7 linked regions of the Homo sapiens genome follow. The protein of the gene in region 7 interacts with the protein of the main gene of each other region in a biochemical or structural test. Each region holds a gene or a part of one and is shown on either strand. Other genes may lie near its edges. The genes, in order: ABCA2, PRR16, CACNA1D, CD46, TRPM1, GOLT1A and MAST2.

The links.
Region 1: the proteins of MAST2 (region 7) and ABCA2 interact in a test that uses a peptide from one of them, tested with the Homo sapiens proteins (one large-scale study listed by IntAct).
Region 2: the proteins of MAST2 (region 7) and PRR16 interact in a test that uses a peptide from one of them, tested with the Homo sapiens proteins (one large-scale study listed by IntAct).
Region 3: the proteins of MAST2 (region 7) and CACNA1D interact in a test that uses a peptide from one of them, tested with the Homo sapiens proteins (one large-scale study listed by IntAct).
Region 4: the proteins of MAST2 (region 7) and CD46 interact in a test that uses a peptide from one of them, tested with the Homo sapiens proteins (one large-scale study listed by IntAct).
Region 5: the proteins of MAST2 (region 7) and TRPM1 interact in a test that uses a peptide from one of them, tested with the Homo sapiens proteins (one large-scale study listed by IntAct).
Region 6: the proteins of MAST2 (region 7) and GOLT1A interact in a test that uses a peptide from one of them, tested with the Homo sapiens proteins (one large-scale study listed by IntAct).

Annotation. Positions count from the first base shown.
Region 1 is NC_000009.12:137,018,182-137,022,220, forward strand, and holds part of ABCA2 (ATP-binding cassette sub-family A member 2), read right to left. Parts: intron 3,821-4,039; coding exon 3,710-3,820; intron 3,430-3,709; coding exon 3,211-3,429; intron 2,881-3,210; coding exon 2,513-2,880; intron 2,315-2,512; coding exon 2,155-2,314; intron 1,126-2,154; coding exon 997-1,125; intron 890-996; coding exon 722-889; intron 635-721; coding exon 538-634; intron 171-537; coding exon 1-170. UniProt on the Homo sapiens protein: Probable lipid transporter that modulates cholesterol sequestration in the late endosome/lysosome by regulating the intracellular sphingolipid metabolism, in turn participates in cholesterol homeostasis.
Region 2 is NC_000005.10:120,462,687-120,467,365, reverse strand, and holds the start of PRR16 (protein Largen), read right to left. Parts: upstream 3,067-4,679; 5' UTR 2,880-3,066; coding exon 2,721-2,879; intron 1,741-2,720; exon of another isoform or gene 1,655-1,740; intron 1-1,654. UniProt on the Homo sapiens protein: Regulator of cell size that promotes cell size increase independently of mTOR and Hippo signaling pathways. Acts by stimulating the translation of specific mRNAs, including those encoding proteins affecting mitochondrial functions.
Region 3 is NC_000003.12:53,721,337-53,725,375, reverse strand, and holds part of CACNA1D (voltage-dependent L-type calcium channel subunit alpha-1D), read right to left. Parts: intron 3,063-4,039; coding exon 2,902-3,062; intron 1,943-2,901; coding exon 1,717-1,942; intron 1,585-1,716; coding exon 1,377-1,584; intron 1-1,376. UniProt on the Homo sapiens protein: Voltage-sensitive calcium channels (VSCC) mediate the entry of calcium ions into excitable cells and are also involved in a variety of calcium-dependent processes, including muscle contraction, hormone or neurotransmitter release, gene expression, cell motility, cell division and cell death.
Region 4 is NC_000001.11:207,782,930-207,786,968, reverse strand, and holds part of CD46 (membrane cofactor protein isoform 3 precursor), read right to left. Parts: intron 3,678-4,039; coding exon 3,639-3,677; intron 1,899-3,638; coding exon 1,863-1,898; intron 1,351-1,862; coding exon 1,287-1,350; intron 1-1,286. UniProt on the Homo sapiens protein: Acts as a cofactor for complement factor I, a serine protease which protects autologous cells against complement-mediated injury by cleaving C3b and C4b deposited on host tissue.
Region 5 is NC_000015.10:31,063,726-31,067,225, reverse strand, and holds part of TRPM1 (transient receptor potential cation channel subfamily M member 1), read left to right. Parts: intron 1-38; coding exon 39-163; intron 164-978; coding exon 979-1,150; intron 1,151-2,084; exon of another isoform or gene 2,085-2,194; intron 2,195-3,500.
Region 6 is NC_000001.11:204,200,442-204,204,143, reverse strand, and holds part of GOLT1A (vesicle transport protein GOT1A), read left to right. Parts: intron 1-1,156; coding exon 1,157-1,248; intron 1,249-2,332; coding exon 2,333-2,511; intron 2,512-3,702. UniProt on the Homo sapiens protein: May be involved in fusion of ER-derived transport vesicles with the Golgi complex.
Region 7 is NC_000001.11:45,806,271-45,810,309, reverse strand, and holds part of MAST2 (microtubule-associated serine/threonine-protein kinase 2), read right to left. Parts: intron 1-4,039. UniProt on the Homo sapiens protein: Appears to link the dystrophin/utrophin network with microtubule filaments via the syntrophins. Phosphorylation of DMD or UTRN may modulate their affinities for associated proteins. Functions in a multi-protein complex in spermatid maturation.

The sequences.
Region 1 (4,039 bases), on a different chromosome or scaffold from region 7:
GATCCAGACGAAGCCGTAGAGGAAGTAGAAGCGGCCGCCAGTATTGGGCCCAGGCCGCCAGTAGGCGCGGCGGATCTCGTTGGTTTTCTCGGTGAAGCTGGAGTTCTGGCGGATCTTGTAGTGCACGTGAGGCGGGAGCGAGCCGTCCTTCCGGGTCTGGAAGATCACACCTGGGGCCGGGAGGTTGGGGCGGGGCCAAGATGCAGGGGCGGGACCAAGGCGTGGTGGGGGGGAAAGCAAGGCACGGGGGCGGGGCCAAGGTGTGGGGGCGGGGACAGGAGGGTCCAGGGAAAGGTGGGACAGGGCTGGGGTGGGGGCCCCAGGGGAAAGGTGGGCAGAAGTGGGGAGGTGCAGGGAGGGGGCGGGTTGTGGGTTGGGGCCGTTTGGAAGGGGCAGGGGTGGGGAGGGGAAGTGGCGGGTGAGGGGGGAAGGCCAGGGCGCGGCCAAGGAGTGGGAGGGCACAGGGGGACGGGTGGGGCTGGGCTGGGGAGGAAGAGGTCTGTGGGGGGCTGGGGCGGGGCGGGGAGGGCAGCTCACTGGCAAAAACAGTGACGTTGTCCTGGTAGGCCTGGTTGAGGGTGTAGTTGACAATGCTCTCCTCGTCGGGGAAGCCCTTGAAGATGTCCACGCTCACCTAGCGGGAGGGGCATCGCTGGAGCCCGCCGTGGGCATGTGCGAGGCAGGGGGTGTCGTGGGTTGGCTCGGAGGCCCCACCGCTCACCTTGGACATGAACTGGATCCAGCCGCAGGCCGCGTTGTCAATGGTATCCAGCTGCTGCAGGAGGGCCATGCCACTGGGCAGCGAGAAGTTGTCCTGTCTCAGGGCCGGCGGCAGCTCATCCAGTGACAGGTTCAGTGCCTCGGGGTGCAGCCGCAGCTCTGCTACATACTTGGGGTGGAGGGGCGGCTCAGAGGGGGACCTGCGCCTGCCGAGCCGGGCAGAGAGGGGCTCCCCACACCACCCACAGCCGCCTCCCTCGCGGGCACCCTTGGCACCTGCTGCAGCCAGCGCAGGTGTTGCTGCAGCCTGCCCTGCTCCAGGAAGCTGCGGATCTCCGCCGAGATGTTGAGCCAGACCTGGGCATAGTGAGTCACGTTGCCCACAAAAGCAAAAGTCTCGTTGGCCTGCAGGGGGTGAGGCAGGGGCATGGAGTTTCTGGACGGACCCCCACCGACTTGGGGGCTCTCACCCCACTCACCTCCCCAGTGGCTGGTCCATTGCCAACAACTAACCCTCCCCACCTTTTTTTTTTTTTTTTTCCTGAGACAGGGTCTCAGTCACCCACGCTGGAGTGCAGTGGTGCAGTCCCAGCTCACTGCAGCCTCCACCTCCCAGGCTCAAGGGATCCTCCCGCCTCAGCCCTCCAAGTAGCTGGGATTACAGGTGCCCACCACCACGCCTGGCTAATTTTGTATTTTTGGTAGAGACGGGCTTCCGCTATGTTGCTCGGGCTTGTCTCAAACTCCTGAGCTCAAGCGATCCTCCCACCATGGCTTCCCAAAGTGCTGGGATTTCAAGCGTGAGTCCCACGCCCGGGCTCTCCACTCCTTTCTGCGGCGCTCAGGTGAAACCTGCTTTGCCCTCCACTCCCAGGGCAGCACGGCCTCCGGACCCCCAACTGCCCAGCTGTGCCCACCAGCTCCTTTGCTGGACCTGTCTCCATGTGTCCCTTAAGCACCCAATGCTCCACCCTCATCTGTCCCACCCTCATCCTAGGGACCCCCTCTACACCCAGGATTGGCCTCGTCCACAGGCCCTCCCCTCCCAGGCCAATGTCCAGCCCTGGCCTCTGCTTGTTCCAGACAGGACCCCTCACCCAGAACCCAAACTGCCCAGCTGCCCGCCCACGAGACACTCTGGAAGGTCTCTGGACACACCCCTCCTCCACCAGCACTGCCCTGGACCGGCCACCCCCAGCCGGAGGACCCTGCCAGAGCAGACTCTCCAGTGCCTTCCCACAGCAGCCCCTGGAGCTCCCGAAAGGAAAAGCGACCCCCTGGTCCCCCACCTGCAGAGCCTGTGTCCCATCCGAAGCTGCACCCCGTACCCCTCCCGTGTCAATTCTGCCGACACCCTCTGCCCAGGGGTCCCAGGCCTGCAGAGACCCCCTCCCACTCTGCCTGTCAAACATGGAGCGTCCCAGACCCGTGCACCTTGAGGATGACGCGGTCGACCTCAGAGCCCGCAGGCGCGTACAGGATTTTGGGGTTGCTGGTCATGAGGTGCACGAGGAGGCCCAGGTTCCGCTGCTCCTTGCTCGTGAAGCCCAGGGAGCTCATGTTGCCCCGCCGCAGCGCCTCGGGTTCAATGGTGCTGGGGTAGGGGACAGGGGGCCGGGCCAGGCCGTTAGGGGGCAGGGCCGCGAGAGTGGGAGGGGCATCGGGATGGGGCAGGACTTCGGGGCACAGGGCAGGGCGCCAAATGAGACCTCCAGAGCCAGAGCCTAGATTCAGGGCTCACGCCCTGCCCCTGGCTGTCCTCCTCACCCCCATTCCCCTGCCGCCCACCTACCGGTTGTTGCCACACAAGATGGGCTGCAGGCCGGCCCAGAGCTGTACGAAGGCTGAGCACTGGCCCTGCAGCGTGTCCGGGGTGGCCAGTGCTGCAGCAGAGGGTGCGCCCTCCTCAGCGGTGGCGTTGGGGCCCATGACTGCCCCTGCCCCAGTGCCATTGGCCGCCCCACCCGCACCACTGGCTGGGGGTCCGGGGGTCCGGCCAGTGCAGGCACCCTGGGGCAGTAGCAGGGCCAGGGCCGACAGGACATCCACATCCTGCAGAACCTTCTGGGCATCCAGCAGGTCCCCCAGAAGCGCCTGCAGCCTCCGTGGGGGTGGCGCCTGTGGCGAGGAGTCCGAGCCGTTGGGGGCATCCAGGCCCAGCTGAGGGGAAACAGGCACGTGGGCAGTGCGGGGTGAGATGGACTGCAGGTGGGTGATAGGTCAGGAGTGGAGCAGGGAGACAGCAGCAGGGAGACACAAGCTAGGGGTGCTGGGAGGGAGTCTGCAGCCTGGGTAACGGGAGCCCAGGACAGGAGCTGGGATGGTGAGCAGGAGTGGGGCACCAGCCATGGTGCCATTGGATACCCACCCACAGGCAGCATCCCACGCACAGCCTGGGCCCAGGAGCCCTGAGCTCTCCAAGCGGTCCCAGCCCCTCCTTCAACTCAGGCAGCAAGCAGCGCAGCGGGCAGTGGGCAGGCAGGGCCTCACCTGCTGGGAGACCTTGGCCACGTCCAGCTGGTTCCGGAGCTCAGCAGACAGCCCAGAGAAGCGCCTGGCACGCGCAGCAGCCTGCCCACTGCAGACAGCATCCCGGTAGCCCTGCAGGGCTCCCTTCTGACTCTCAGGCACAGTGAGGATCCGGCCCAGCTCCCCCGAGCCCGGCGTGCAGGTGAGCTGCTCCAGGAGGGCAGGAGCCAGCAGCAGCTCCTGGGATGGGCACAGGGGTCCGTGGAGCCACGGCAAGGACTTTGTCCCCAACCACTAGGGCCTCAGGCCTCACCCTGCCCCACCCACTGGCTGGCTCTGGGGCTGCCTGGGTCCCACGACATGCCTCTACCCCTCATGCCTGCCATAGACCCCTGGGACCCTCCCCCTCTCCCAGGAGGAGCTCCAAGTCACCAAAGGGGCCCTTTCCTCACCCACGGAGCAGAAGCACCCCCAGAGGCAGGCAGCACTCCAGGCCCATCCCACACATGGATGCCCTCACCTCCATCCGGAACAGGGGATTGCCCCCTAGGCGGCTCCAGGGCTCCTGACCCTTGTGGAGGCCAGACTGTGAATCCAGGGCAGATGAGGGACCAAAGAGCAGGTGGTAGACCTAGGAGGTGTGGGGGAATGGCTCAGATGGGGTGTGGGGGGCGTGGCTCAGATGGTGGGGGCGTGGCTCCGATGGACGTGTGGGGGCGTGGCTTAGATGGTGGGGGCGTGGCTCAGAGAGTGGGGGCGTGGCTCAGATGGTGGGGGCGTGGCTCCGATGTAGGTGTGGGGGCGTGGCTCAGATGGTGGGGGCATGGCTCAGAGAGTGGGGGCGTGGCTC
Region 2 (4,679 bases), on a different chromosome or scaffold from region 7:
TCATAACTACTTTTTTATTTTTAATTTCTGTTGCAAGTTAAGAAGAGCTCGCCGATAATTTATATTAAAATATATTATGGTCTAAAAGCATAGCATTGCCAATAAAGGAATTAGAATTCTAAATATAGCAGTTTATATTTAACACGTACTAATTTTAAGCTGCCAGAATACTGAATATGATGAATAGCAACATTCATGTACAGCAACCAACAAGCTTTGTAATGTACAAAGTTTTGTTATTTCTTTATCCAAAACTATACCAAAGACATGTTCACTCACATATGCAGGATTATCCTAAAAAGATACATGCTGGACAACTGCAAGATGTCATAGGTTAAACATACCCTATAAATACTTTGTTCTCAAAATATTTTCATTCATATTCTATGAATAGCCGATGTTTTGGGATTTGGCCATTGTAGGTACATTTTCTTGTGCAAATCTAGGATGATGATACCCACACAAAAGTAATTAACAATCACATCACATTATTTATGTCATAAATTTCAGTTTCATGGTGAGATTTTTACTCAAACAGATCCTTAAGACAAACAAATCTTCCAAAATGTTGAGTCAAAATTGTATCTCTAGATCTGTCAGATAGTTTCATCTACTGGGTTGTACATTATCTCTGCTTTTTATTCCTCTTATAAACAACCTTTTTTTTAACCTTAAAAAATCTTCAGTAATGAAGACACAGAAAGTGGTATCAACAGATTTCCTGACTTACATTTTTGTGATTCTAACCAATAACCACAGGGAGGTTGAAGATTTCACTACTTAATCTCTAAATGTCCATAAATAATGATGCAAAGCAAAACCAGGACCATGTGCAGTTTCTTGTCATTTATTCTGTGCAAAAAAAGTGAGTGGACTGACATTAAAACATAAGGAAGTATGGCTCACAGATGCAGAATTCTGTTTAACTACCTTTCTTTTAGTCTCAGCCTCATGAAAACAGTAAATACGTTTCTGTGCCGCTGTAGGTTTTCCACATCGCCCATAGAAACCTCACCAACTATTAAGCACAATTCTGCCGAAAGGAACATGCCCAATTTCATTTTTTAAAACGCCATGTTTCAGATGAAAACACAGTCTACCAAAGATGTCATATAAAAGAATAACAAAGAAAGGGACAGCATTTTTAGAATTGAATTTCAATGCATAACCCCACCATCTGTCAACCAGTTGTGAAGCAATAATCCTACAGAAACCCTGAAAACACGAACAAGTTTTATCCCTGAATCTATGTATACTAACAGCCACTCTCAGGACCTCAGTACTAATTATGTTCTGTCTGTGGAGTAACCTACAGGAACGACATTTACCACTGGCAAACTTAACCCTGGTGACGAATGGCCCATTTTAACAGACTTGCATTAGGTAACAAATGCAGAGTTCAGTTCATAGAGGTAACGGGGGAAGGGGAGGAAGACGAGGGGGCTCTTGAAATTTGGTTTGGAAATTGAATACAGGAGGTTAATCTCTAGAGGCCAGTCATCCAAACAACCCTCAGTCTCCTCCCCGTTGGCTTCAGAAACAGGATTACAATTTTGGACCTAGACTACGCCCCACCCCTTTTCCCGCTGCAGCCACCGCCACCTTCGAAGTTCTAGTCTTAGCTCTCACGCAGCGGAGCTGCGGACTCCCTCACCGAGAACCGCACCAGGACCCCATTCAGTAGTGAGCGGCGCGCTGGGACTCTGCTACCAGCTCCGCGACGCCGCCGGCAGCCAGCCTGGCTCGGGAGACCCCACCCCTCCCAGCCCGGCCCCCGCCCCCGCCCGGAGCCGCCGCCTGAGTTACGCAGCCTCAGCCCTGACACCTTCTCTGCTTCTTTCCATCTGGATCACCTGGGGCTAGGGGCGGGCGGGAGTAGGGCTGAACCGAAGTGGGATAGGAAAAGCGGGGAAGAACCGAAGCAGTCCCAGCTGCAGAGAGCCAGGACGCCAATGGCAAGACCCCGGCCACACATACACTCTCCTGCGCGTCCTGCTTCTCGGGTTCAATGCCAAGTGGCGACAGGGTGGAAGGAAGGAAGCAGAGGTAGGGTGGCGGGAAGGCCCAGAGTTACTGGTAACGACGTTCGGAGGAGAGCAGGGGATGCTTCAGAAACTGAGAAAGTGAGAAAGTCCCAGACCCCCTCCTTAGCCCCAAGGCTGCCAGCAGCCCGGGTCGCCTTCCCTACAGCGAGGCTCGAGAGACAGGGAGGGTAGTCTGAGCCAAGCTTCCTCCAGGCTGCCCTCCCTGATCTGGCCCAGGGCCCAGAACCCGGCCCCTCTTCAGCCCTGACTTGGGGAGGCTGACAGATAGGCAGCGGACTTGCCAAAGGACTCTGGGGAAGCAATAGGGCAGGAGAGGAGCATCTTGCACGCTCCAGCCGGGCTGCTCACGACTTCCTCTGCCGACACACCCCCAGCTAACCCTCTCCCCCGTCGTCACACACACAGATTCAGAGACACGCGTGCGTTCATCCCTCCCACCAGCCCAGGTCCATCGATTAAAACACTAGTTGATTTCTTCCTGATTAAAAAAAAAAATTAAAAAGTGCAACAACAACTCCTCTCAGGACTCCAGGAGCAAAGAAAGTCCGTCTGCAGGCGCCTTTTCTGTAGTTTCCCAGGAGTTTGGAAATCTGGCTGTCCCTGCTGAAAATCGGAAAGGGGACCCCGGAGGGGTCGAAGGGTGCCGAACTCCCTCCCCACCCCTGCGCCTCTCACCTCCTTAAGTTCCTTGGCCACGTCCTTCAGGTCGCCCAGGACTAATTCCAAATCCTCCACGATGATCTTGATCTGTTCCTTCACCTTGGTTTTGGAGGCTGCCGGCGGTCCCTCGGCTGGACAGGACGAGGAGGGGTTCCCCTTGGACTTGGCTGACATTCTTTGGGGGCAAGCGAGGCAGGTCAGGACAGGCGGGCGAGCGGAGGCTGCTGCGTGCCCCCGTCCCTGGCGCTGCTACGGCCGCTGCCGCCCCGGTCCCCCCACATCTTGGGCGCTCCCTGGGCAGCGGCGAGTGGCTGCGCTCCGCGCTCGGCCGGGCGGCCGCACAGTGGTGCTGCCATCAACTCCCGAGACGCGGCGCTCGGCTCGGGGCTGCAGACGGGCGAGCAGCGCGCCTGCGCCTCCTCCCGCCGCCGCCCGGCGCTCTCGCGCACACGCGCTCGCTCCCCGCCCGCGGAGAGGGGCGCCGTGCTGCCGCGCCAGGGTTGACGCTTGCAGTCCCCTCGACGTTGCCCTTCGAGATATCTCCCAGATGCCACCTTGGCATCAAGGTGGGGGAGACAAGTCCGTGTCCTGCCCGCCCCCTCCTCTTGGTTCTGAAATGTCCCCATCATCTCAGCCTGCTTGCTGTATGTCATCTCACAACTAGCCTGGATTCTTTCTGCTTCACTTGCTAGCAGGGACCTGGATCAATTCAGAAAGAACCACAGTGGGATCAGGAGTTGGAGACAGTCTGTAAAGTGGCCCTACAGATTTATCCAAACCCAAATGATGTCCAGAGGCCTTTAATCAATCTCTTGGTGACCTGCGAGTTAAGCAGACTTCTTAACTTCTGCAAGAAAAAAGGGGGGGGGGGGTGCACATAACAGCTAATGGTCATCTATTGAAACCATGAAATTCAACCAGTGTTCTTGAAAGAGGTACCCTAATCCTGCTAATTCCACAAAGCTAATACCGGATTTATTAATTTGAAGTCCCCACACCCCAAATCCTCTCTGATTGTCTCAGTCATCTTGGCTGTATGTCTTATTTGGCCCAACTCTTTTTTTTTTTTTTAACTGTCCTTCCTCTTTTTGTGACCTATGCTGATTTACATTTTGAGTGGAGTGGGGGAGACATCGTATTTGGACCTCGTGAAGGAGCTGAGTAAGAGATTGCCTCCAACTTCTCTTTCATCATTTTTTAAACCTCCATTTCAACTCTTTTGCTACTAAACAAATAGGAAACAACTTTCTGACTGTTCTGTCAAAAAGACCCAAGAAGGGAAGTTAATAGGAAGCCTTCGGTTCACTCTCAGTAGGTGTCTACAATTCTCATTAGCTAGAATTTTAACTTCCTTAGTTGTAAACCCATGGGCTATTAGCTACTGACCCAGCAGGCTGGCTCTACTTTATTTTCTTCACTGCACACTCCTCCAGATCATTCTTTTAATAGGCTTCCCCTTTTCGTCGTGCCTTAGCAAGGCTCTCTGTTTCTTGCTTCTCACACTCTGGGTAGCTCCACTGTGCTACACATAAAGAAAAGCTTGGCAGCTCTCCTCTTCCCAGTTCTGTAGGCTCTTAATCAATCACTCTCTTAATCCTGGACAATTCATCTTTACAAAACCTTTGGAAGTCATATGTGGAATATAGAGGAAGAAAGAGAACAGAAGAAAAAATTGAAATTTGAAAGTGGTGTCAAAAGAAAACCATTGAAAACTGCATTGAAAAATCAGGGGAAGAAATGAGAAAAGGTGAAAAGCAGATGCTGCTGGAAAGACTTAAGAAGAGATTATAAGAACAAGTCTGCAGCATGCAAACTGGAGAAAAGAAAAAGAGAAGAAATGATTAAAAGTGTGAAATAAGTAATATGCTTGAGTTCTCTGAGGTAGGGAGAATTAGATTTTTAAAACATCCTTTTTCTCCTCAAATTCTTTATTTTATAAAAAATATAACATTAAAATAATTATATCAGGTTTAC
Region 3 (4,039 bases), on a different chromosome or scaffold from region 7:
ACAGAACTCAATGCTTGTCAGCAAGGGACTGGTCATATGAACAACGGCACATCTACCACCGCATGGACGCAGCGTTTCAAAGGAGGGGCAGCCTTTTATGGACCAAGCAGGAAGGCTCTTGAGGACACTCAAAGTGATAAAAGCAAGATGCAAAACAGCACGTACAGTGAGCTCCTGTCTGTGGAAAGTCTCCTATAGGTAGCTTAACTGAGTTGTAGCTATCAGAAAATGCAGATCTAAGAATTCACAAGAAACTGTTTAATGGTGGTTGCTTCCTAGAAGAGGAAATTTGTGGCTGGCTGGGAGAATTATTATTCATTTGTAACATTAGAATTTTGTGCCATATGCATGCATTACCAAAAAAAAAAAAAGACACCAGTTTCTCTGAAAGAAATTTTTTTTTAAAAAAGAATCACTGATCAGCAGCCAAAATTTAAGTATAATTCAAACAACAATACTATGGCTTACAGCAGATTATATATACCTGAAAATGACCAAGTGGGAGAGAATTGTCCAGATCATTCCCTTTGGTCTCTGGATTTCTTCAGAAATGGGTAAGTGACTCATCCACAGCAGAGAGCTGGGCATGGAAAGGGCCACCACAGGACCCAGCTGTCTGCTGCCTTTCCTCTCTGGCAGGGCTCTGCAGCTCACATCACACAGGAAAAGCAATGAGGACAGGTGGGTCTTTTAAACTTCCCCATCAGACCCTGTCCAAGGAGGAGGGTTTTGAGCACCTCAGCGTAGAGTCAGGGGAGCATGTGCTGCTGCTCTGAGCAGCAGAGCCATCGGTGCCTCTCTGCAACCACCGCTCCCTTCTCAGCTACTGCCTGCAGAGGCCCCACAGGACAGGCACCCTCAGAATCTTTGTGTCCTCACTGCATCCCAGGAGGAGGACAGAAGGGACCAATGGCTGCCACAGTTCCTACCACTCTGATTCCTCCAACTACACACCAAAGCATGGAGGCATGAGAATTCACTTCTTGTGTAAATCTATTATAACTAGGATTATGAACTGGCCTGCCATCAAAAAGTACCAAAGAGAAAAGAATTTTAGAGTCTATTTCAAAGAAACCTCATAAAATCAATCAAAAAGTTTTCTTGGAAGAGCTTGAGTGTGAAAAACGGTTTTTTTGGTTTATTATTTTGTAATGTAGCTAGAAGTCTTTAAAAAAATTACATCACTTAAGATAGACAGCTGGAGGATGATGCAGAACGAATAACTTAAATGGCACAAAATTTACCAGGCTATGATTAGGGCAGAGATGAACAAAAATGGAGTCCTTTTGTCTTCCTGAGTGTGAGCAGACAAGAAGGCAGAGGAGTTTTAGCTGCTGCTCACGAAGTGCTTTTCGGGGAATGGAGGGAGGACTCACCTGGAACACTGTGAGAAGTGCTTGAGGGAAATTGTCAAAGGTGCTCCGCTTGGTTTGCGTTTCATCAAAATTAAACTTGCCGCCAAACAGCTGCATCCCAAGCAAGGAAAAGATGATAATGAAGAGAAAAAGCAGAAGCAACAGCGAAGCGATGGACTTCATGGAGTTTAATAAGGATGCCACTAAGTTGCTCAGGGAAGTCCAGTGCCTATAAGTCAAGATGAGGGTGTCAGCTCAGAACACCCATGCAGGACAGAGCAGAACATCACCTGCCCGGGGATGTGACTGGTTGCCGCCTCATGTTCATAAAACATTTGCAGTGGGACCCACATTTCCTTACCTGGTCACTTTGAAGATTCTTAAGAGGCGCACACACCGAAACACAGAGATCCCCAGGGGAGACATGATTTCCAGTTCCACCAAGATCGTCTCAGTGATTCCACCACACACCACGAAGCAATCAAACCGGTTGAAAAGAGAGACGAAATATGCTTGGAGGCCCAAGCTGTACATTTTTACCAGCATCTCGCAGGTGAACAGAGCCAAGAGGACTTTGTTGGCAATATCTGGAAAGACAAAGGGGCACCCATCCTCAGGGTCTCCTGCAAGACACTCAGACTGCTCGTGCCCCTCACACCTCCCTCCCTATCAGGCCCCACAGGAAATACGCCAATACCTTGTCTCTCTCTTCACTACCTCACTCAGGACAGAAACGTGGCCTTCGCGTGGACAGTCTGTCCACCAGGTTCTGGTCCTGCTTCTGCTACTAGCTATGTGTGTGACTCTGGAGAAGTTACTTGATTTCTCCAGGTCTCAGTGTCACTGATGACAAAATGGGAAGGGGCAGCTCATCACATAATCTCTGACTCCTTCCAGCCCTAAAAGCCTACGATTCTGCGTTGACACCATCAGGTTATACATATTTTTTCATTCAATCACACAGAAAAGATCTGTCTGAATTCATTTATGGCATGACGATATCAGAAGCAGTCACCTATCAATGTCATTTCTAACAGCTGAAAATATCACCAAGCAGGCTGGAGAGGTAGAGGGAAACGGGTTTGACTGGATGAAAGGAAGGACTTTTCAAAGGCTCAAAACTGTCAAACCCAGAATGGGCTGTCTCTAGGGATGAGTGTCCCACACCCCAGTGCTGGAGCATTCAAAGCAGGGGAACCAAAACCATTTGCCAGAAGTACTATAGGGGAAAATGAAGCTTCCCCGATGAGGGCAGGGAGCAGGGATTACGAGGTCCCTTCCAGCTTCAAGAATTCTTGGTCCTAGGTTGGCTCAGGGTTAGGACAATTAGATGCTTGGCATTAAGTGGCTCCAAGGTGCTTCACCACGCGGCACAGATGGCACCCTCGCTCTGGTAGTTGCTGTGTCTGGATGGTTCTACCAAGTTTGTCCTCACTAGAAATGTTGCGATACTTCATCATGCAGCGATCAGATAAGACCAAATGGCAGTTGGACAGCCACAGAAATCTCTAGTTCAGAACAAAAAAGGAATGGCCTCTGCTTGTACCTTGAATCTGTGTCAACCAATCTGGCTGATTGTAGTGCTCAGAGGAAATGGTTAAGGTGTTCAGAAACACCAGGACGATAACCAGCCAGTAAAACGTGACAGACTTCACGGCGGCCCTACATCTTCTGCGATTGAATCGGTTCCAGCGACGCCAGCGTCGGCTAAAAGACAAGCAAACATTACTACGTAGATGACAGATACAGCATCTGAGTATCCAATAAATATGATTGAGAGATAATTTGGCTTTCACTCTGGAGGTCTAGATTGGGGTGGGAGTGCAGGAAAGAAAGATGAGCACAAATGGCACAGAAATTAACAGACTTCATCATAAAAATTATGTTGGTCTTAAAATGCGACTTTTAAAAGTATAATCTTGACTTGATCATGCTATCAGTCCTTCCTTATGGCTTATAGATAACTCCAGAATCTGTCATATGCAGCCCTTAAGTGGGTTAGAAAATCTAGATATTCATAGATTCACGTGCAGATGCAAAACTACACTTGCACACATATGCAGTTCCTATATCCACCATATGGGACGTGGATCTGCTCATGCAATCAGTGCAGAGAGCCACTTCGCTTATTATACACATCTCTTGCAGCATCTCAATCACCATACAGAATTTACCAGGCAGCAAAGTGCTACAAAGCTAGTTTTTTTTTTTTTAAAGGGAACCTTTTCAATCCTTTCTTAAATCTCTGAGGTTCCTCCAGAGCCTGGCAGAGTTGTCAAAGCTGAGTAGGACATGAATCTTCATACTGAGTCATCAGGTGCCCTTTCTAACTAGTGATGCTCAAAATATACCTTTAGGAGAAGAGCCAATATTGAATCGTGTTTTCATAAAAATAAAATGAGCTCAGCCAAACAGACAAGTAGCATGTCCTCCACCTACCTTCAGTTCCTGATTGTGATTAGAGAAAATATTCTCTCCCTTAGCCTGTCTCCTTCTAGAAAACCTTCCCTGCCACAAGGGGATGCTTTGGTAAAGTGTGCCATGAGCTGCAGCTCAGTGACCCAGATCCCGTGGAAAGGTCAGCCAATTGGTAAAGTCAGTCCTCTCCAGGCTGTGCTGCCTCACTAACGACAATGGGGTACTTCCTCTGGGGGCCTGAGTCAAGAGGAATCTCCAGGCTACCC
Region 4 (4,039 bases), about 160 Mb from region 7:
TAAGCAGAATGCGACTTTGTTTTGTTTTCTTTAGAACTTGTTTCTACGCAAACCTTATGGATTTGTAAAAATATTCCATTGATAATATTTTGTACTCACGTTGTAGATATGTAACTTTTAGAATATACAACTGATAGATAAATCAAATATGCATATCGTGTTCCATTAATACAAGATTTAAGATTCAAGTGAAGGGATTATGGGTATTTCAAAAGATAACCAAGTAATATGAAAAAAGTTTGAGTTCCTTATGAGTAAAGCTTGTACTTTTATGACTTAGCCCAAACCTGATGATCAGTATAAAAGGAATATATATCATAAAACCATGAGTACCAAAAGTCTTAAAATTATTAGGTTTGATTTCAAAGCTATTTCTAAAACTATAGGGGAAAACAGTTTTTAAAAATCAGTAAAAATGAATGTATATTATCTTTCAGAAATTTCAAAGCACCTAATCTTAGTCTGTGTTCCAGGATTCATTCTAAGTCTTTTGTTAAACTGTAAGCTCTTTAACTAAAATTTGAGTTTGATGTTTTAAAACCCTATTTTCTTTAGAAGATATGTACTTGTACATTTTTCTTCTATTCTAAACCCACTCACTTTTTACATTTTTATATATTAAAAGACACAGTTAATTGAGGTACCTTATAGATCTAACCCCTCTCAGCAATTTTAACTTTAACCCTATCAGTTTTACTGCAATCTGGTAAATTCAGAGAACATAAGAGGGAAATCGGATAGTGTTGTTTTGAATCCCCCAGTTTAACATGTATAAATAACAACTTTAAATGAAAAGACACCAAATTGGGTATTTAAATGATATGCCTACATAGCTTCTTGCAACTAGCTAAGCTATATAGACAAGTGGAAACTTTCATTATAAAAATTCCAGTGAATACAACTGTCAAAGTCTCCACAGTGAAATACTTTAAATTTAATTTTGGCCATTAGTGCAATTTTGGAAATAGGGAATAGGGTAGAGAAGGCCTCATAGTGAGTGGTCCATGATTTGCTAAATAACTTAAACCTCAAATCCAAAAGAAATTTTTCTTAAAGTCATAATAGCTGTAGGAACTCTGCACAGATGTTTTTATGTTGCAGTGATGTTAGAAGTAGCTGAAAATATTTTTAGCAAAGAAATGCAATTGGTAGGACAAACTAATGCAGGCATTTTTTTAAAAAAAAAAAAAAGATAGCATGCAATACAGATTACAAACTGAAGCTGCACAAAAGCATGTTAAGTATAAGAAGGACCAAGAAGTTAAAAGAAACATGCTTTAATTTACCCTTTCTTCTTCCTCCTTTGAAGATATCTGTACGGGACAACACAAATTACTGCAACTCCAACAACTATAAGAAACCAGGAAACAAATGACATATAATTCTGAAAACTAATCACCAAGATTCAACATCTAGCAGAAGAAATAAATGTTGGTTACATTTCAGTGGTCAAATGTTATTTAAGCACCTACACATTTATATTCCATCCAGACTCTTTGCTATCTAAATCCAACTCCCCATAATCACTTACACAGTCCATAGTAAGTCAGAGAAAAGTCCTTGCTTAATTTAGAAAACTATCAAAAGCACATTTGGGAAGCCAACTAATATTACTGATCATCTTGAGAAAATATGTATTACTTAGGCTTTGTTACTAAGTAGATATACAGAATATAACAGAGTATAAAATCACTAACACAAGGTAGGTAGTTAAGTATATCAAATAAAAAGTCAGGTTTTCCTAAATCGGTTTAACCAATTTACAAGCTGAAAAAACTATAGAAACTGAAAAACTATTTTTAAAATGCATGTCTTCACAATAATTTTTTGACTTAAGTGGTGTCAAAATTTGTGATACTTACCTATGGCAATAACAATCACAGCAATGACCCAAACATCTGAGAAAGAAAACAGTTCCAAGATGTTGAACACATGGATCTCCAGATAGCATTTATTTCAATCAGATCATCTAAACACTTGATATGGTTTGGCTGTGTCCCCACCCAAATCTCATCTTGAATCGCAATTCCCATAATCCCCACGTGTTGTGGGAGGGACCCCATGAGAGGTAATTGAATCATGGAGGCAGTTTCCCCCATGCTATTCTCATGATAGTAAGTTCTCACGAGATCTGATGGTTTTATAAGCGGCTTCCTCCTTCACTTGGTTCTCATACTTCTCCTTCCTGCCATCATGTGAAGAAGAATGTGTTTGCTTCCCCTTCCTCCATGATTATAAGTTTCCTGGGGCCTCCTCAGCCCTGCAGAACTGAGTCAGTTAAATCTCTTTCCTTTATAAATTACCCGGTCTCAGACTGTTCCTTACAACAGCATTGAGAATGGACTAATACAAGACTACAGAGGAAAAAAAAATTTTTTATATAGTTTTAGCATGACTGCTAGGGCATCCAGGTCATTTTGATCATAGAACCCTTCTAACCAGTTTCCAGGTTAAGGGTTCCACTTGTGAAACTCTTAATGGGAACCTCATTTTTCACTGTTTTTCTCTATAGCTACCACATCAGGTTATTTAGCGGTAAAGTTATTAGAGTAATTAGAATTCACTATAGTAAAGGAAAATGATTTTTGAAAAGTATTATCCCATGAGAGTTGGTTTAGTTCAACAGTCATTCTGTCATTTCTTATTTTGGTAGACATTTAATTTGTATTTTTTCCTCCAAAAGTGATCTGTAGAGTGAGTCATAAATAAATTTCTATTATTCTATTGCCCAGATGGTATTTACAAAGTCTTCACAAACAATACTTTATCTTATCAATCCCCTTCCCATCCTCTCTACTTCCATACTCTGCCCTGCCCCAAAATTAAGACATAGTCCTAAATACCAATAGGATTCCCATAATAAATGAAACACCAGGGCACATGGATAAAAAATATACAGAGAAATTTGAGAATACATTTTTGACTATCTAGAGAACACAAAATAATCCTATAAAATCTTAATTTTTAGAACTGTTTCTGTCCCTAGTACCTTTGCTTCTAAACTGCCATTACTTTTATTAAATTGCTATAAGTCAAAGCATAAAGTGCTATGTTCAACTCTGCTCTTCTCATCTCATAAACAGTTATCAAGTGTTTAACAGTTTAAGATGGCAACAGATTTACTTGGACCACAGATTTTGGAGGTAAGGCAAATACTAAAAAACAAGCCTAAGGTGCATTATATAAAATGATTAACCATTACCAAACTAGTCTAAGAAATGAAAGGTAATAGATTTTTGTTTTTACTTATTAAGAAATCTTTATTTTTCATTGGCCTATATCACAACTGCACTTCATCTTTTTTTTTAACATGCATTGTGTAAACTGCGTAAGCCTACATCAAGTGTGTTAAATCAGCGTGTTACAGAAAAAATAAACCCAACTTAGATTGCTTTAAGGTTCATGTATATAAGATATGAATAGAAAGAAAATTTATCGACAGATTACCATCACAAAATAACAATATAATGTGGAAAGAAAATTGTGTTTTATATATTTTAACCTACATACAAACACAGCATTTAAGAAAGTTATCTTACCCTACCAAGGATCCTATGTTTGGGCACCTCATAAAAACTAATTACCTACACGTTTCTACACATACTACCACTTATATTTGTCATGATAGCTATACCAACCCAAACTGTCAAGTATTCCTTCCTCAGGTTTAGGATATCCTAGGAAAAAAGAAGAAATATAGATTAAATTAATAAAAGAAGGAAAGAATTAAATATAAAGCTTAAAATCCTTTAAACTCATAGGGTGATTTTTTTTCACCTTTGTAGAAAATCCCTTAAAATATAATTTTCCTTATAAACTATATTAATGTTTCTCAAAGTAGTATCATAAAAATTTATAAACTTACATTTAATGTCATAATCTTTCTTCTTCCTCCCCACTCACATTTTCTGTGACAACATTCTGTGGTTCAACATGCAAATTTATCTGTACTATTTTCTCAAAATTAGTCTATAAATCCAATGTGATTCTAATTAAAATTAAAAGATAGAGGGATTAGCCGGGCACAGTGGCTCACGCC
Region 5 (3,500 bases), on a different chromosome or scaffold from region 7:
GTAAAAGAGCCTAAAATATGACCAATGGCTGCTCACAGGTGTTATCAGCCACGTAGGGGATGCCTTGAAAGACCACTCCTCCAAGTCCAGAGGCCGGGTTTGTGCTATAGGAATTGCTCCATGGGGCATCGTGGAGAATAAGGAAGACCTGGTTGGAAAGGATGTAAGTGTTTTCTCTGCAAATGTTGGCAGTTTTTTAAAATTAATGATTGATTTTGAGGTAACCGTTGATTCAGATGCAGTTGTAAGAATAATAAGAGAGCTCCCTTGCAGCCTTTCCCATTCCTCCAATGGTAACATCTTGCAAAACCATAATGCAAGATCACAACCCGGATACTGTCATTGATAAGGTCAAGGTGCAGAATGTTTCCATCAACACGAGGATCCCTCCTGTTGCCCTTTCATATACATATACCTCACTCCTTCCTACCCCCACCTCTTCCTTAACCCCTGGAAACAACTAATCTGCACCACCCCGCATTTCAAGAAGGTTCTGTAAATGGAATCATACAGTAATGTAACCTTTGGGGATTGGCTTTTTTTTCACTCCACATAGTTCTCTGAACACGCGTCCAGGTTGCCATATGTATTGGTCTTCATTCCTTTTTACTGCTGGCTGACATCCCATGATATGGAGGCACCAGTTTCTTTAACCATTTGTCTGTTGAGGAACAGTTTGGCTGTTACAAGTAAAGTAGCCATAAACATTCCAGTGCAGGATTTGAGGTTAACATAGGTTTTCATTTCTCTGTGATAAATGCCAGGGGTGCAATTGCTAGGTTGTCATTATCTAAAACAATTAACTTTCTTTCTATTTTAATGTAACAATTGGCAAAAATAAAACCTTCAAAAGGCAGGGTAGAGATGTGAGAATAAGTTTTAGTGCAGTCACTCCACACATATGTATTGTGCTTGCTTCCCTTGTTGGTCTTAACATCCAAGTCCTGCAGGTCTGATTTGCGCTGTGCACTTTGTCAGGTAACAAGAGTGTACCAGACCATGTCCAACCCTCTAAGTAAGCTCTCTGTGCTCAACAACTCCCACACCCACTTCATCCTGGCTGACAATGGCACCCTGGGCAAGTATGGCGCCGAGGTGAAGCTGCGAAGGCTGCTGGAAAAGCACATCTCCCTGCAGAAGATCAACACAAGTAAGTGCTGGCAAAGGCACGCAGTCCTCCTGGGCTGATGCCATCACAGTGGAAACAAGGCTGAGAAGGAGATTGATTGCCCAAGGGGATTAGAAGATTAACCTTGCTTCTTGTTAGGTCAACAGAAAATGACTCACCTAGATGTCTTACCTTAGCCACCTACCAAATCACATTCACTGGGCTACATGGGGATGCTTTGCCCCAGGTTCACAAGTTAGCACGAAATAACCCTCAGTGCTCGCCATGGTGATGGCCTTGCCCACCCTGTTGCCCAGTGGTTCTTGTTCCCTGTAATTAGTTGTTATTTTTTAAGTGTTTTAACAGGAAAACAATTTCTCAAAGATTTAGTAGGATTCTTTCTATTTGCTGATAAGTATTATGTGATTATTAAATATCTCTGTAATGCTGGGCCTTTCATGTAGACTAAGATGGCCAGGTGGGGACATATCTGGAGAGGGCTGCAGGAGCCATCTGCTCCTGAAGGGGCATCATCCTTGCTGGTCCTGAGGGGGAGCTGTCACTGTCAGACGAAAGCTGAGGTCGAACTAGAGAGAAAGACGCAAACCTCAACCAGAAGAAACAATGATAACAACTGGTTAGAATTACAATAACTGGTATAATCTCTTGGAGCATGTTTATACTCCAGTAATTCTTAACGTCAAACAATTGTTAAATGATCTGAAAGAGCAGTTTGTTTTTCCCATTACTGGCAAGATTTTTGTGGGAGACCATCTAGTCCTGGCGAATGGTCATTGGGAATCATCATGTATGGGACTGTGATGCTGCAGAGTGGGTAGAATGGGGATGGCCTACTAGGAAAAGTTGTAGATTTCCGAGAATCAGATCTCGAAGAATACATTGGTCGATGACTGAATGTTTTTTGTTCTCACATCTCTAATTTTTCTGGACTTGTAAGTTTTTACAACACCCCATTTCACCTGGCCATGTGACTTGTGGGCTTCCCTTTGTCATCCTTCGCCTAGGGCTCTGAGCAGGGCAGGGACAGCAAAGGGGTGCTCAGTTGTCACTTCCCACAGCACGGAGCTTCGAGGACTCCAGCCTAAGCCAAGAAGAACCTGTTCTACTCTGTTGCTCGAAAAGAAGGTGATTTGGCCACCATATTCCTAAAGATTGAAAATATCAATCCTTGCTTGGGTTGGAAATCTCAAAGGCGGAGTCCAGGATATCTTAGTTCATTTTTCCAATATCTCCTGGTCAGGGCTTTGCACAAAGCAGACCCTCAATGCATGTCTGCTGAAATGAACTTAGCTGTAATTACTCTGGTGGACACAGCAGAGTTATTCAACATATGTAAGAGTCCCTGACTGTAGAAACACCTCATGGAAGCAAATTAGAAACTCTGAAATGGCTCATTTGAAATTCTCCAATCTTCTCTTAACCAATGCTGGCAGATTTTTATCTGAAGCCCTTCAGAGCTGAGACCAACGATACTTCCACTTGCCTTTAGTTAATATCGATCAACTAATTCCCATCACAACTAATGGACAGCTGGTGAAATAGGCTCAGAGTGTGATCTGTCATGGCCAGTGTGGCATAAAATTAGGAAGTAGGCAAATGTGCCTCCACTCCCATTTCCTTCCCATTCCAGAATCCCAACTTCCTGGAATCTTCCTGCCACCTCTTGCTTCCCAGAGCCATGCCTGCAGGTTCTGCCACCAAAAGTTAGTTGGTACCCACTGTGTTCTTGAAGAGTCCTATTAACTGATAGAGACAGAGGGAGGACTCTGGGAACAGGTCATTAACTGATGGGCCACTAGTGGTCCAAGTGGCTGCGTCCAAGATCTGCACTTTATTCCAGCCACTGAAGACAGAAACGTCAACAAGAACAGTGTACCTCATTTGTATGCTACTTAACGTTTACAAAATTATTTGCTAGCCAAACACATATTCTGATATTTTTACAACTGCAGGAGTTAAAGGAAGCACTGTGATTGTTCACCTTTTACAAATGGCTGTCTAAGGCTCTTGGTGATTTGGTGATTGGCCCAGTGTCATAAGGGAGAAGCCAGGAATTGAACTGCAATTTCCCTGGCTGGTCCAGATCCCCTTTCATCATCTTATTCTTCAGGGACAGCCATCAGGGTGGGAATTTCAGACCATAGGCTAGGACAGCCAGGGGGATATTTTTCCAGCCAGGAATACCTTCCAATATTTCTCAGTGGTCACCTTGAAGTAGCCCCAACATCAGGTGGGTGGGTTATTCAGGAGTTTAACCATATGTGAGTCAGAAAGTTTCAGACTTTGAGGTCCTGGTTTTCCCAATGAGGCCATAATATGTGACAGAATGCAAGAATGATAACTGGGCTGGGCACAGTGGCTTACACCTGTA
Region 6 (3,702 bases), about 160 Mb from region 7:
TTAAAAACAAAGCAACAGAATGAATTTTTATTTATTGACTATCATAGTGGCAAAGATAAGTAAAATGAACAATTCTGAGTGCTGGAGAGGGTTAAGGAAAAAAGGAACTATATATCCGGTTATTGTACAAATCGTCTTGAGGGGAGCGATCTGAAATATGTTTATCAAAATGTCAAAAATGTAGCCCTTGACCAAACGAGGGGGCCTTCATGTCCTGCACTTCTAGGCTACGCTTGCTGGCTCTGAGTGAACTCCTGCAGCTTCAAAGAATGCCCTGAGACACTTACAAACCTTGGGAATGGGGGCTTACTGTCAAACCTTGGGAATGGGGGCTCACTGTCAAACCTTGGGAATGGGGGCTCATTGTCAGTGTGGGTCCAACCTCGGCAGAACTGCCCAAAGCCACTGGGCTGAAATGAGAGTTGGCCGAAGAGTGTGTGGGGGGCCCGCAAGGTGCCTGCTGCAGGAGGGAGGGAGGACAATGGGAGCAGGTGCAGGCTTGGGTCTTGGATATAGGTCCCAGCTGAGAAGAGGAATGCATTCCTAACTGATGACTTCTGTTTTCCCAATCCAGTGGGAAATGTCACCACCTGAGAGTGGAGACAGGGCAATTCTGAGGAGGAAGGAGGCAGTGTGGAGAGTTGCTCAGGCGGGCCAGCCTCTTGAGTAAGGACCAGGAGAGCTGGGTGGTTCTGAGGCTCTTTGGAGCTGGTGGTCCTGAGTTTTCAGTGGCTCCCTTCTGCGCAGTGTGGGCTGGGCTCCAGTGGTTCTCAGTTGCACAAGGCAGGAGCAGAGGCAGCAGATGCTATGTTCAGCCTTGATACTGATGTGGATAATGTGGCTTTTGAGGACAAGAGGAGGCTGAGAGTATAAAGTGGTCAGGGCAGCACCAGCTTCCACACAGGGCTGCAGTGAGGACAGCATGCCACTGTGTACAGAAGTGACAGCACAGTTCCCAGGTGCCAGACAAAGCTTCATGCCATCCTACCTTCCCCTTCCCATCCCACCATCCCCTGAGAGCATGAAAGCTGAGATTCCTGGATGGAAGTGGAGTCACCCCCATAGAGGGCACCTGTCCTGTGGCAATGGGGGAAGTTTCAGGGTCCCCACCTGCTCCCCAAAGCCCTTTCCTCCACCACCTCCTTGCCCATTGCAGAGATTGGTGTGGGGATCACCGGTTTCGGCATCTTCTTCATCCTCTTTGGAACACTCCTGTACTTTGATTCCGTGCTCCTGGCCTTTGGAAACGTGAGTCTCCCAGCCCTGTGTCCCCACTCCCCTGCCCCAACCTTTCTGAAGTCTCTATTGCCAGGATAGTCCTGGCAATAAAGACTTACAGTTTATTTAAGTCTTTAAATAAATCCCTTAAGTAAATCCCAAGTTTATTCAGACCATGCCTATCCAGGGGTCAGACATCATCAAGCCTGGGCAGAGGAGGGCACAGGAAATGGACGCAGAGCCCGCTGGCACCAAGAATCTGAGGACCTGGATTCTCACACCGAGCTCTGGGCGAGACCCTGGGGGTTCTAAGAGGACTCAGACACTGTCCCTGCCATCTGAATCCCACTCTAGGGCTAGAGATATAACATGACATACATGGCTGGGAGGAAGGCAGGGGCCATGGTAAACACATTTAGTATGAAACAAGGGGCTTAGTGGAAAGAGGGCACACTGAATTGGAGAATGGTGGAGAGGAATTTGGAAAGGAAATGGGTGTGGAGGTGAATAAAGCACTTCCAGGGGGATTGGAACAGCAGGAGAAAAGGTGTGGGGAAGGAGCAGGGAAGCATGGGATATGCTGGAAGAAAACCAGAGAGTTCAATTTGATGAGAGCCTGGGCACTCTTAAGGGATTCATTAGGAGCCAAGCTGAAGACGGTGATAGGGCATCCAGGGGAGGGACTGGAGGGTTATTCTGTAGGCAGTGGAGCCTCTGAAGGTTCTGTGTGACTTTCAGTATGGCTGCCTAACCTACTTAGGCCTCAATCTTCACTTCTTTGGAATAAAAATCCCTCCCGATTCCATCTTCCCCAGATGGTATGGTGAGAAACCAAGTCCCATATGAAAAATGCTTGGGCTCCAGGGAATTGGGTAGGCAACTAGAAACCGTCAAAGGTTTCTCATCCATCCCCCTGCCTCTGCGCAGTCCTGTTCCCAGCCAGCAAGACTTATCAAGGCTCTGGGATTCTGCCACACTGCTGGATGGCCCTCGCTCAGATGGTCTTGAACAGTTAGCACATCCTGTCCCAGCCCACCGCCTGGCTCCAGGCCTAAGTCCCTCACTCCTCAGGGGGCTGGTGGGTTTGCTTCATGCTCCCCTCCCTCCCCTACAGCTGCTGTTCCTGACGGGCCTGTCCCTCATCATTGGCCTGAGGAAGACCTTTTGGTTCTTCTTCCAACGGCACAAACTCAAGGGAACCAGCTTCCTCCTGGGGGGTGTGGTTATCGTGCTCCTACGCTGGCCCCTCCTCGGCATGTTCCTGGAAACCTACGGATTCTTCAGCCTCTTTAAGTGAGTGCAAATCCCTATAACCCTGGACAGACCCACCAAAGTGTCTGAGTGGCTGAGATCACCCCAGCAGGGAGTGCAGAAGCTGGGACTTTATCCTGCAAGAGATGAGAACCATGGACACCTTGGAAAGGCCCCCTAAAGTAGGCTGAAGGGTACTTTGGAGGGATTAGCCCATCCATCAACAAATACTGATAGAGTGCCGACTGTGTTCCCAGCACTGTGCCCCCAGCACTGTGCCTGTGAGCAGGGAAGAGACACGAGGCCTGCCCTCAAATCTCAGTGATCCAGCCGGAGAGGAAGGGCAGTGAGCTAACATGTTCCAGGCACACTCATGATCATCATCTTATTTTATCACAACAACCCACTATAGGATTATCCTCTACTTCATAGATAAGGAAACCAACACTCAGAGAAGTTGCCCCCGGCCCAAAGTCTCAAACTAGTATGTGAAAAAGGTCGCCCTTAACCCAGGGAGCTCTGGCTCCTGACCCCTGTGTCATCCCCTGGCCAGGCCTGTGTCAGCCCTGGGCCTGGGAAAAGGCAGGGTGGAACTCAGCCATGATGTGTGGCCACTGTCAGGCCTGTAGGCACTTAGAGGGGAGCCCAGGGTAGTGTCATAGAGGAAGCAGGACTTGAGAGAAGCCTTGAGGGATGGGTAGGGTCTAAGAGAAGACTGGAGGGCACTGAAGGAAAAGGAAGGAAGGAGTCTCAGAGAAAGTGGGGGTGGGAAGGAAGACTTCATATGTCTACACGGTGGTGTGGAGAGAATAGGGGTGGGATTGGGACAATGGACCCTGGAAGAATGATGGCTTCTGCAATCATGGAAAGGTGTGGGGCTCAGGAATCCCCAGGTTCTCACAGGAGCCCCCGTTTGCTGAAGGCAGCCCTGAAACCCCCTGATTAGCCTGAATGGCCTAGGCCTCAGAGACTTTGGGAAGTGTGGCTTTAAAGTTTCTCATGCATACCTGCCATCTATTTATTCCATATTCAAATATGTCATTTTATGGCTGGGTGCAGTGGCTCACACCTATAATCCCAGCACTTTGGGAGGCCGAGGCAGGCGGATCACTTGAGGTCAGGAGTTCGAGAACAGACTAGCCAACATAGTGAAACCCTGTTTCTACTAAAAATACAAAAAAAAATTAGCCAGGCTTGGTGGCAAGTGCCTGTAATCCCAGCTACTCGGGAGGC
Region 7 (4,039 bases):
ATTAAAATAATTTTTTAAAATTTCTGTCACACTGAGGGTATTTTAGGAACTAAAGTTGAACTCATCTTCTGCCATCCTCAAAAATATTCTATTTCCTTTGTCTACTCCTATCATATAACCATTATTACTCAAATTACCAAAATTCAAAATATTTGAATCATTCTCCATTCATTCATTCAATAAATAATGACTGAGCACCTATTGTGAGCAAAGCCTTTAGCTCTGCATTGTTAGACAAAATGATGACATAGTTCTTACCTTCAATAACATGCAACTTAAAAGCAAAAATGAAATACAAATGAACACAGAAAGTTGAAAGTGCTAAAACACTGATTCATCCTTTCATTCAGCAAATATTTATTCAGCATCTACTTTATATGACCAGGAATGGATCAAACAATATGTTACAGAAACAAAATGAGATAAGACTACTTATTAAGCACCTACTTATTATGTGCTTTCCAGTCATTTTTGCATTTGATCTCTTGGAACCTAAGCTTTCACTTTTAAACCACAGAATTTTGAGAACTGGAATTTCAGGACATTCACAGATTTCCTGAAGCCCAATTAAGGATCCTCCTAGGATCCCATGTGGAAAAACAACTTTGCAGAAGAGTTTCTTTTTGGGTGTGTGGTTTTGTTTTTGTTTTTTGTTTGTTTGTTTTTTGCTTTCTTTACGAGACACGGTCTCATTCTGTCACCCAGACTGGAGTGCAGTGGTACAACCTTGGCTCACTGCAGCCTCAACTTCCAGGGGTCCCACCTCAGCCTCCCAAGTAGCTGGGCCCACAGGCGCGCACCACCAACCCCGACTAATTTTTGTATTTTTTGTAGAGATGGGGTTTCACCATGTTGCTCAGTCTGGTCTCAAACTCCTGAGCTCAAGCAACCCGCCTGCTCAACCTCCCAAAGTGCTGGGATTACAAGTATGAGCCACCACACCTGGCCTCACAGAAGTTTCTGTGGCATTTGAGTTAGGCCTGGAAAACTGAGTAGAATTTTAATATGCGGAAGCAGAGAATAAAGAGCTTCTCAAACTGATGACTAATTAAAGTATATCAAAGTGCCTAACAATAAACAATTACTTACTGAATGTCTATTACATACCAGTTAAAATACTAGAGGCTGAAGATACCATGATGATTAAGACAGCCTCAGAGGAATTCATTTGACTGACTTACAATCAATTAGGACATTGAGCAAATATCTATGTTTCTAATAAATACACAAATAACTATGTTTCAAGTACTATACTAAGCCCTAGGTATACAGAAGTAAATGGAACAGTCTGACTCTCAAAGAACTTACTAATGAGAGAAACAAGATAATTTTAATATTGTATGCCATGATCGAGAAAAGCAGACGGTCCTAAGGAACCAAGAGAAGTGGCAACTAACTGACTCTTCTAACAAAAAGTGCTAAGTATCAAGTAGATCTTGAATGCCAAGGTCTTCAGGCTTAATTCTATGGGTAATAAGAAGCTAATGAAGGTATATGAATAAGGAGAAATGAAATGAACATTTAACGAGTATTTATAAAGCACTTACCATTAGCCAGGGAGGCAATGAGTTCCAATCTTTTGTTAATAGAACGTGAAATATATTAGAGGTTAAGAGACTGAAGACTGAGTAAATACAGTTAAGATACTGCAACAACCAAGACTAAAGTTTATAAATATGAAATTAAGGTAGTGACAATGGGAATAATGGTTTGAAAGATTTCATGAAGGCAGAATCGAGAGAACCTAATGCCAGACTGGCTAAGGGAGTCAAAGGAGAAGAAGTAAAAGACTACAGATGTGGGCCAGGCACGGTGGCTCACGCCTGTAATCCTAATACTTTGGGAGGCCAAGGCGGGTGGATTGCCTGAGCTCAGGAGTTCGAGACCAGCCTGGGCAACACAGTGAAACCCCATCTCTACTAAATACAAAAAATTAGCCAGGCATGCGCTACTCAGGAGGCTGAGACAGGAGAAACGCTTGAACCTGGGAGGCAGAGGTTACAATAAGCCGAGATCGCGCCACTGCACTCCAGCCTGGGCGACAGAGCAAGACTCCATCTCAAAATAAAACAAACAAAAAAAGCCATGGATATAATTTCATGTTGGATGACAAAAAGGAAAGATACAGAGAGAAGCACATTTCAACACAGAAATTATTCTATTTTCATGATACAGTAAACCACTGACCTTCTGGAGATCCAAGTCCTACATCCTGATTAGAACGTATTCTTAAATACTAGTATAATAAAAACTGTAACAAGCACTGTTCCATGTCATGAGAAAGGGAAAAAAAAGTTACGTGTGAGATGTAGATGCTTGCTGATCAGCTGGGCTCTTACTACCCAAATAAATAGAATTCAACCAGTCTCGACACATACAATGAAAATTTTGGCCTTTTTAAAATCATAAATTATTACAAATTATGAACTTTCAAGGTCACTATCAAATTATAAAACTCACAAATGTTAGGCCGGGCACAGTGGCTCACACCTGTAATCCCAGCACTTTGGGAGGCCGAGGTGGGTGGATCACCTGAGGTCAGGAGTTCGAGATCAGCCTGGCCAACATGGTGAAACCCCGTCTCTACTAAAAATACAAAAATTAGCCAGGCGTGGTGGCGGACGCCTGCAATCCCAGCTACTGGGGAGGCTGAAGCTGGAGAATCACTTGAGCCTGGGAGGCGAAGGTTGCAGTGAGCTGAGGTCCCACCACTGCACTCCAGCCTGGGCAACAAAGTGAGACCCTGTCTCAAAAAAAAAAAAAAATCACAAATGTTAAGAACACAAATGATGAGTCTACGGTGGAAATGTTAAGCACAAAAATGGAAATGTAGAGCTAAGGAAAGAGGTCACACCTAAAGAGACTCAGCTCACTTTACAAGGATGTTCTGTGACACAATGCCATAAATAAAGAGGACTGCAGACCCTTGTTCTACATCCTCAACATCTACAAACAGAATGAGCCTGCTAAATAGAGCACAATAAAGGATCAAGCTAAGGACAGAGGACATGTCCTCAAGGAACATTTCAGGAACAGGAAGAGAAAACACAAGACAAAGACACACAAGAGAGCAGTTAGAGAAGCAGTAACAGAATGGATATTATAATATTAAAAAAGAAAAAAATGTCAACAAGGAACACACAGTCAACAGTGACAAATAGTTCACAGAGGTCAGACAAGATGAGGAAAAGACTATCAGATTTAGTAATTTAAAGGTTCCCAGGACTTTTACATATTTCTCTCTGTAACTATTTCACAATGAAAACTTTTCACAAGTAGCCATGAATTATATTTCAATTTGAAAAACAAACTGGGCACTCATGCCCATAATCCCAGCACTTTGGGAGGTCAAGGTGGGAGAATCACTTGAGCCCAGGAGTTCGAGGCTAGCCTGAGCAACATGGTAAGATACCACCTCTACAAAAAATAAAAAATTAGGCCGTGGTAGTTCACGCCTGTAATCCCAGCACTTTGGGAGGCCAAGGCGGGCAGATCATCTGAGGTTAGGAGCTCGTGACTAGCCTGGCCAACATGGTGAAACCCCATCTCCACTAAAAATAGAGAATTAGCCAGGCATGGTGGTGCATGCCTGTAATCCCAGCTACTCGGGAGGCTGAGGCAAGAGAATCGCTTGAATCCGGGAGGCAGAGGTTGCAGTGAGCTGAGAATGTGCCGCTGCACTCCAGCCTGGGCGAGAGAGCAAGACTCTGTCTCAAAAAGAAAAAGAAAAAGAAATTAAAAAATTAGCTGGGCATGGTGGTATGTGCCTATGGTCCCAGCTACTTGGGAGGCTGAGGCAGGAGGATCACTTGAGCCTGGGAGTTCAAGGCTGCCGTGAGCTATGACGGCACCACTACACTCCAGCGTGGGTGACAGAGTGAGATCCTGTCTCAAAAACAAAAATAAGTTTTAGTAACCATCACAATACATTCATACAATGGAAAATTACACAGCAATGAAAAAGAACTGTTTCTACAAGCAACAACATGGATGAGTCTCAAGACATGATCCGAATGAAAGAATCTGGTCACAAAACAGT